Regions from separate parts of the Homo sapiens genome. Here region 2 is linked to region 1. The links come from fine-mapping of genetic effects on gene expression. A gene starts in region 1. The other region holds a variant in brackets. All regions are shown on one strand. Distances are from middle to middle. Region 1 holds the start of ENO4 (enolase 4). Region 2 has its middle 32 kb from the start of PDZD8.

Evidence for each region. PIP is the estimated chance that this variant, and not a neighbour inherited with it, causes the effect.
Region 2: its variant is the best candidate, but not a certain one, in a credible set for the expression of ENO4 in nasal epithelium (TOPMed, PIP 0.51).

The regions. Positions count from the first base shown.
Region 1 is chr10:116,847,036-116,851,422 of GRCh38, forward strand. It overlaps ENO4 (enolase 4), which reads left to right and starts at 2,464. Exons shown (of 14, transcript NM_001242699.2): 1 at 2,464-2,696. The coding sequence starts at 2,532. It also overlaps a transcript of HSPA12A not described here. RefSeq lists an enhancer at 1,111-1,280.
Region 2 is chr10:117,405,074-117,409,460 of GRCh38, forward strand. No RefSeq gene overlaps it. Among named protein-coding and RNA genes, the nearest start is that of PDZD8, 32 kb to the left of the region's middle. RefSeq lists a cis regulatory region at 3,874-4,232. The variant C/T (reference allele first, on the strand shown) is at 2,361.

The sequences.
Region 1 (4,387 bases):
GAACTCTATGTGGATGTTGTCTATCAGGATCTTCAGTCCTCCCTTTTCTCTGGGATACCAATGCTACTCAAGCTCTACACATCTAACACCCAATGCATCATATCGCCTCCATCAAAACCAGATGACGCACTGATCCTATTTCCGTTAACTATCACAGAATTCTACAAGGTAATCTCAAAAGCCATCTTTGCTTCCCCAACTCCACCACATCCAACCACTCAAAGCCTTTTACATCCCTCCTTCCTATTCTCTCTCACTCATCAATTCCCATGGTTGCCATCAGTGTTTAGGCCCTTGCACATATACTATTTTCTGCCTCTGTCTCTTGTTTTCTGTATAACAAAAACCCATCAATGCTACCCACTGCTGCAAGTTAACTTCCTAAAACCCCACTTATTTCTTGCCCTTCCTATATTCAGAAATTTGTGGTTGCTTCCTTCTCTTACAAAATGGGATTCCAGCTTCTTCATAATCTCACCTCAAACTACTTTTCCACCCTATTTCTCATTATTCCTGAAAAGAAACCCTTTGCTCCAGCCAGGTTGGTGTACTCATTACTCACCCACCTCCAAAACATCTGATTGTGAGTTAAGTACTTATTAACCATTTATTATGTGTAAAACCCATTCAATCACTCAACAAATATTTACTGAGCAGCTATTCCATCAGGTAATGTAATGATGCTGCAGACACAGTGGCGAACAAGACAAATCAAGTCGCTGTCCTCCTGGAACTGAGGCAAATGGGTTATAGGGTTATAGGGGGAGACTCTTAAGACATGGTGGTCCCAGCCCAGGATACTCGCAATCTTCCATTGAGATGTCAAATGAATCAAGACATCCCTGAGGGCTGAACTTTGTGGTCCAGGCTGCAAATGGGGAAAGAGTTCAGAAGGAAGGGCTGGCTGGAGTGAGAGCTGGATTGTGGACGTGGCTTCTTTGATGTGGGACTCAACCCAGGCACTCAAGGATGAACATAGGAGAGAAGCAGGTGCCTTTCTTCCAGGGGTGTATGAGGAAAGGCAAAAAGGTGAAATGGAAACAGCAGCAATAGTGTCAGCTTATTTTGCATAAGGGTTCACTCAACACCTATTCAGCAGAGCACATCCTCTGCCCTTGCAGGGCCCCAGGCTCCGTGGTGGATGTGAAGGTAACACAGACTCAGATTCTACCGTCAGGGGATTTCCATCTAGCAAGGAGAGAAGGCAGGTTCATGATGGTCCATTACACACAGACAGTGAGACGTTCCGTAAGAGAGCAGAGAGAACACGGAGGAAGTTTGGAAGGTGCATGTCTGGGTTTGTGTAACAGTACTTATAGCATCACATTTTTATGCATCTGCACCCATACGTGCATGTATTGAAAATAACTGTGTTTCAAAGTGCTTTCTCACTCACTTCCTCATTTTGTACTAAGTGACTCGGGAAACAGGCAGAGGAGGTAAGATGATGTTTTCCAGAGGGGGGAAAGTGTGGCACAGATCTTGTAACTGATCTGCTTAGGTAGGAAACATAAACAGGCGTGAGTGGAACAAGAACACCCTGTCCGTCGCCGCCCACTCCTGCAGCAGAGGAAGTATCTAGAACTGAGGACGCACACTAAGTTCTGTAATCGCATGATACCTGGCAGGTACAATGAAGCCAGGAAGGCACTTCGGATTGAAAAGGGCAAGGACATAGGCAGCATTCTGGAGAGGGAACGTGAGCCAAGGCCATTCCCCCATTTCCGTTTTACCTCCCCAAGTCCTGCCTGAATCATCCCCCATCCTTAGGTCTGCCCAAACCACAACCATCCCTTAGGGTTCACCCCAGATATTTTCAACCCACACTGGTTTTTTTCATTCCATTGATTTCACCCCCACTAATATCCCAGAGAAGGGCAAGTGGCCGTTTCTCTCCTGGACATCATAGCAGGCCCAGCCAGCACACGGCTCGGCTCAGAGCAGGTAGTTAATAAACATGAGCCGAATGAAAGAATTCCTGAGATCGCCACCGCTCAGTAAGGATGCCCTGAGCCCCTACATCCCTCCCCCAACAGAGTGGGCCTGCCTGGCACGGGCGGCCTTAGCAACCCGGAGGAGCTCACTAACAGCAGAGAGCAAGGGGGCGCGTGGGGAGGGCGGGGTGGCCCAAGACGCTGGGCCACTGGGACCCGAGCGCGCGACCCCAGCCGGAATTCGGAGCTAAGGCTGCCGCGCTCCGGCAAAACGCGCTTGATGAGGTCGTTAAAGATTTCCCCCTCTGGAAAATCGCCAGGGAAAAGTGGTGAAAAACGAAGCCGGGAGGGCCCTAGTCTCGGGAGTCTAGGAGGAGCCCAACCCCCGGACCTAATGCCGCAGGGAGAAAAGACAGAGCAGCGAGCGCAAATACCATCCTAGCTCCAATAAAAGGGAACGACTTTTACCGCAGGAAGAACCTAGGCCTGGAAGCCACGCGAGATCTGGGGGTCGGGATCACGTTGCGTTGCCTAGCGACAGCAGGGACGCTCGTGGGACCCCAGGCTAAACCCCGCTGTAGCCTTAAATCTCCTACCATGGAGGAAGAAGGCGGCGGCCGCAGCTGTGGGACCACTAGGGAGCTGCAGAAGCTGAAGCAGCAGGCGATGGAGTACTACCGGGAGAACGACGTTCCGCGCAGGCTGGAAGAGCTGCTCAACTCCACCTTCTACCTCCAGCCTGCCGACGTCTACGGGCACCTGGTAGGGACCTGGGACAAGCGCTCTCCTCCCGCCAACCCCTCTCCCCCCGCCCCGCGCTGCGGCAACGCCTTGCGCCTGCGCCTGCGCCTCAGAATCTCGCATGCCAGCCGCCCGGGCCCTGGGCCTGCGTGTGCGGAGGAGACTTCTGGAGGGAAGGAGCGGGAAGGACACCCAGGGGTGAAGGGATCTCCCCAGAGAAAGTGGCAGAAAGGAGGCAGCTGGAGGAAAGAGGGCGCTAGGCGTATTTGACCTGCAGCGGCAGCCCAGGGGCTGGCAGGCTTCCTCGCTGCCTAAGAGGCCTCTCCGTTTGTGGGCCGGCCCACCGCCCATGCTTGCCAATTGTCATTTTTAACACATACCTTAATGCCCTCAGCTCAGCTCACCGACCTTAAGCAGCTCCTCTTTGATCACAGGATGAACACCTTGGCGTTTGCTACAACTTGGCTTCAGCCTATTCTGGGGCCTCATCCTACTGGCTCCTCTGCCGGGATGCCAGTTAATATCTGACCAGCCCCGCCCTAAACTCCAAAATTCAGACCAAAGCCTTGCCCACGTAGCCCTGGACCAACCGTCCTTCTGGGTTCCTACAGCATTTCCTTCGTGTATTGTAGTCTCTTGAGGCAGCCTCCCTAGGCAGCCTGTGAGCCCCTGCTGGGCTCAGAAGCCTTGTCTTCTCACCTTCCGGGTCTCTGCCCAGCCCTGAGATCTGGCACATACCTTAGCGTTAAGCAGTGAGCAGCTGAAGCAAAGACGTTTTCTCCCTTCCAGATCTATAAGTAGTAAGGAAGGCAGTGTGGCTGGGGCCCCTAGGAGTTTGCACTATGGCAAGGCAAAGCAAGGAGGCAATGTGAACACCAAGCAGAAGGAGTCCTATGAAGAGGCAGATGTGCTGTCAGGGTGCAAAACCACGTCGTATTGAGGCAGTTGATATAAAGGATGTTCCGCGAATGACTTTTTCCCACTCATGGCCTATACTATCAAAGGGGAGAGGTGTGGGGTTTACTGAGCCCCTTGTGCTGCGTACTGTAACTCAATCCTCAGTACCACTGCGACGAGGTAAAAATGATGATTCCCATTTTACAAATAAAGAACCTGTGGCCAGTGCAATTTAAATGATTTTCCCAAAGGACATAGTGACAGAAGAAAAAAAATCAAACCACATTTGTGTCCCTAGTACCCAGCAGAGTGCATGGCACACAGTGGATGCTGAGAAACTACCTGCAGGATGAATGAGTGAATGCTTGACTCTCATTCCATTCTCTTCCTACTATCTGTTGCTAGAGGAATTCTTGAACACAATCTATTCTAACGTCCTCATTTTACAGGGACACCAAGTCTTTGTCTCACAGCTACTTAGTGTACAAGCTAGGACTAAAAACATGGACTCTTGTTCCCCAGTATAATGATCTTCTTATTCTATTAGGCAGCCAGGATATTCGTTTGTACAGCTCTCTGGGAACTTACATCTTAGTTTGGGACAAAAGTCACTAATACATAAAATAATTGGAGCAAAAGATAAGGTGATAGATGACTGTGTGCTAGATTGAGGGGCAGATCCCTATATGCCTATTAAAGGAATTCAGGGATGGAAAAGATCCTTGGAGGCTGTATATCCAGGAAGGCTTTGGCTTGGACTTCGAAGGATGTTCAGGAATTGCAGAGGCAAAAAAGCAAACTCCTTGAACCTGGGA
Region 2 (4,387 bases), 560 kb after region 1:
TTATGTGCATTGTGATTCTCGAGGGAGAACATGTTGTATGGTTTTCTCTAAAGGCATTTGGCCATGTAGCATTTTCTTCCCAGATCAGCTCTTCTTAAGGTTAGTGTTCCAAGGTGCAAGCTTTGAGAAATGCTGCCTGACAACTTTTACAAAAGTCTAAACCCTGGGTGTGCATGTTAATTCGTATTTCTCTATCCACACCTGGGAACCCGCCTCTCAAAGCAGTCACTTCCAAGAAGGAGGAATGTTTGTGCTGTGTAGGGCATCTGTGGTTTAATTCAGGGAATTGTCACCATGCTATTTGGCCAAAGCTAAGCCACATCCTCTAATATAGCTTTTTCAGTAATAAAGATGATATTTTTATTTCCATTTGTCTAAATACTTTGTCCTCAATTTGTTCAAAACTCAGGCAGAATTTCTTTTCTGGAATCAAAATTCCAACAGGGACTGGGCATGGTGGTTCACGCCTGTAATTCCAGCACTTTGAGAGGCCGAGGCATGTGGGTCACTTGAGGTTGGGAGATGAAGGCCAGTCTGGCCAACAGGGTGAAGCCCCATCTCTATTAAAACTACAAAAATTAGCTCGGTGTGGTGGTGTATGCCTGTAATCCCAGCTACTCCAGAGGCTGAGGCAAGAGAATCGCCTGAACCCAGGAGGTGGAGGTTGCAGTTGAGCCAAGATCATGCCACTGCACTCCAGCCTGTGCAACAGAGTGAGACTCCACCAAAAAAAAAAAAAAAAAAAAAAAAAAAATTCCAACAGGGACCATGAAGCTGGGGTTCCTCTGGACACATTTTGAAAACCACTGCTGGAGGCTTATGCAATGCCAGAATGGAGATTTTTGCCATTTGCCGGTAAAAGAAGCTGCGTGAGGCTTCCTGCCAGGTCTCTGACCCCGTGTGGAGGTAAAAGAAAATGATGCAAACAAAAGCAAAGAAACAACAAGATCAAATTAAGAACTGATGGAGGGCTGGGTTTGGTGGCTTACACCTGTAATCCCAGCACTTTGGAAGGTTGAGGCAGGTGGATCACTTGAGACCAGGAGTTCAAGATCAGCCTGGCCAACATGGTGAAACCTTGTCTCTACTAAAAATACAAAAATTAGCCAGGCGTGGTGGTGTGCACTTGTAATCCCAGCCACTCAGGTGGCCAAGGCATGAGAAATGGTTGAACCCAGGAGGCAGAGGTTGCAGCTAGCCGAGATTGTGCCACTGCACTCCAGCCTGGGCAACAGAGTGAGACTCCATCTCAAAAAAAAAAAAAAAAAAAAAAAAATGAAAACAGGCCAGACGCGGTGTCTCACGCCTGTAATCCCAGCACTTTGGGAGGCCGAGGCGGACAGATCACGAGGTCAGGAGATCCAGACCATCCTGGCTAACATGGCGAAACCCCATCTCTACTAAAAATACAAAAAATTAGCTGGGCGTGGTGGCGGGCGCCTGTAGTCCCAGCTACTGGGGAGGCTGAGGAAGGAGAATAGCGTGAACCTGGGAGGCAGAGCTTGCAGTGAGTCGAGATTGTGCCACTGCACTCCAGCCTGGGCGACAGAGTAAGACTCCGTCTCAAACAAAACAAAACAAAACAAAACAAACAAACAAACAAAAACAAACGAAAACAAAGAATGATGGAGGCAGGGAGACCTGACCAAGTCCAGGAGAGAGATGCTGGGAACCTAATCCAGGGCAATGAGGGCTAGGGAGAGGGGAAGTCACTGAGAGGCGGATAGGTAGGCAGGACTTGATGCCCGATGGCTCTGGGGCAGAGGGCGGAGGGGAGCTGAGGAAGACGTCCAGGTGGCTGACTTGGATGACTGTGTGGATGGAGCTACATGAGGAGGAATGGAGGGGGAAGGAAGGTTGTAATTTTGATCTGAACTCCGTGTCCTCAACTCTTAGGGAGAGAGGAGGAGGGGAAGCAGTACTATTGGCAATTAGTAGGAAGAGGGAAATTATGAGTACAGTGTGAGGCTTTTGAAAGGAAATCCTCTCTGGGGTTGGGGTGGAAAATTACTAAGGTGAAAAACTTGCCTAGGGAAGCTTTAAGCTTTCTCTCTAGGGGGCTGCTTTACTTCACTTCCCTTCCAGACTCACAGCTTGGGAGGTGAGATGGGCAGCTTCTCAAGTAAGAAGAGCATTCCAATTCAAGGGGTGCTTTGTCAACTTAAGTTTCCAATTGCCATTCTGTTGTCCACATGTGTCATGTTTCTTTAAGTTATTGGGAGTAGATCTGTAGGGGCTGATCCCCCTGGGCCTGCAGGAGCTGGAATATCTGAGACTTTGTCTCACTGACTTCAGCAGGTTATATCCATGAGAAGCCTTGGTTAGTGGGATCGGCCTTCCTCTAATTTCTGCACTGTCTC[C/T]CTCAAGGAGGAGCTGTAAAGATCACGTGAGATAACAAACATAGTGCACCAAATGTATTGACTGGCACTTGGCCGGTGCTGCCCGCACTAGATCTTCTTTTAATATCCATAGCCCGCAAAATGCCAGATCTTGAAAAAGGCCATCCTGGTGGCTTAAAGCACTGACCTACTTGGGTGTGACTCCTGGGGATAATAATCCCACCATCAAAAGATCATGGTAAAGATTCGAAGTGACATGCCATATAAAGAGCTTAGTACAGGCCGGGCGTGGTGGCTCACATCTGTAATCCCGGCACTTTGGGAGGCCAAGGTGGGCAGATCACCTGAGGTCAGGAGTTCGAGACCAGCCTGGCCAACATGGTGACACCACATCTCCACTAAAAATACAAAAATTAGCTGAGCATGGTGGTGCATGCGTGTAGTCCCAGCTACTTAGGGGACTGAGGCAGGAGAATCTCTTGAATCCTGGAGGCAGAAGTTGCAGTGAGCTGAGATCCTGCCACTGCACTGCAGCCTGGGCAACAGAGCAAGACTCTGACTCAAAACAAACAAACAAAAAAAAGCCAAGTGCAGCAGCTGGCACCTAGCAGTACATCACAGTGGCCATTACATTATAATTATTCTCATCAATCCAAAAGAGACTGGAGAAGGTGTGACTTCAGATGTGATAGACCAAGGCTTCACTCTATCCCAGAATATTCAAAAACAAAATGCCACAAAACACTTTTCCCATTAAAAAAAACTCCAATTGCCTTATTCACATATCATCCTTCAGAATCTATAAACAGTTCGTATTGTGGGCTGTGCATCAGCTGATCACTCACACTTTGCAAGGCTGCTCAGGAATATTCGGTAAACTCATCTTAGGGCCCAGTGGGCTGTAAGGTATAGTGAGTTAAATGGTGGCCTCCAGAAAGATATGTCCAACTCCTAACTTCTGGTCCCTATAAATGTGACATTATTTGGAAAAAGGGTCTTTGCAGATATAGTTAAGGATCTAGATCATCCTGGATTAAATAGATGACAAGTGATGAGAGAGGAGAGGAGAAGACACAGGGACAAGAGGAGACGGTCATGTGAAGATGGAGGCAGGACTGGAGTTGTGCAGCCACTAGCCAAGGAATATCTGGAGCCACCAGAAGCTGGAGGAAGCAAAGAATAATCTTCCCACAGAGGCTTAGGAGGGAGCATGGCCTTCTGATGCCTTGATTTCAGGCTTCCGGCCTCCAGAACTGTGAGATAATAAGTTTCTGTTGTTCTAAGCCACCCAGTTTGTGGCAGTTTGTTACAACAGCCGTGGTTAGCTAATTTACAAGGAACAGAAACACACTTAAACTAACTTTGAGAACCAAAAAGGTGGAGGAAGGGCACTTTCTAGGAGGACTCGAGGGAATATTATGAATTCCAAGCACAGGAAGTTCAGGCTGGCCTCATAATGGACAAGGCTCAGAACCTAGACAGTTGGGAATGGGGTGGCTGTCATGACACCTGATCATTCCTCGTTTGTCATTTCTCTCTCTCTATGCCTGCAGGCTGGCTCTCTTTGGTTCCTCACTCATGGGGCCAGTCCAGGCACCTTGAACCTGACCTGTCTTCACATCCCATTTCAAGTGCCTAAGAGAAAGGCATATGGCTCTGTGGCCTGATTCCAAATTCCAGGGAGAGAAACTCACTCAACCTTGGTCCAATCAACTCTTGCTAAGGGATGAGCTCTTGTGTCTGGAGGCCTTTGTCCAAGGGTATCTGTTGCTGTCAGATACCCTTGGAAGTTCCTACTTGAGGGCCAAAGATAATTTTGAAGGGCAGAAAACCAGCCAGCTAAGTTCCATTCAGCCACCAACTTGACAGGTCAGGGAGAATCTAACCTTCTTTTCAAATCTTCCTTCCTGCTTTAGAAAATGTCCTTAGCCTTCTAACTTTCTGTCTCTGCCAACTCTTCCCTTTGATATAACCGCATCATATTACTGAGAAGGAAAAAGCAGAAAAGCCATCCATTTAGATTTTCTTTCTGTTCTAAGCATGAAGTT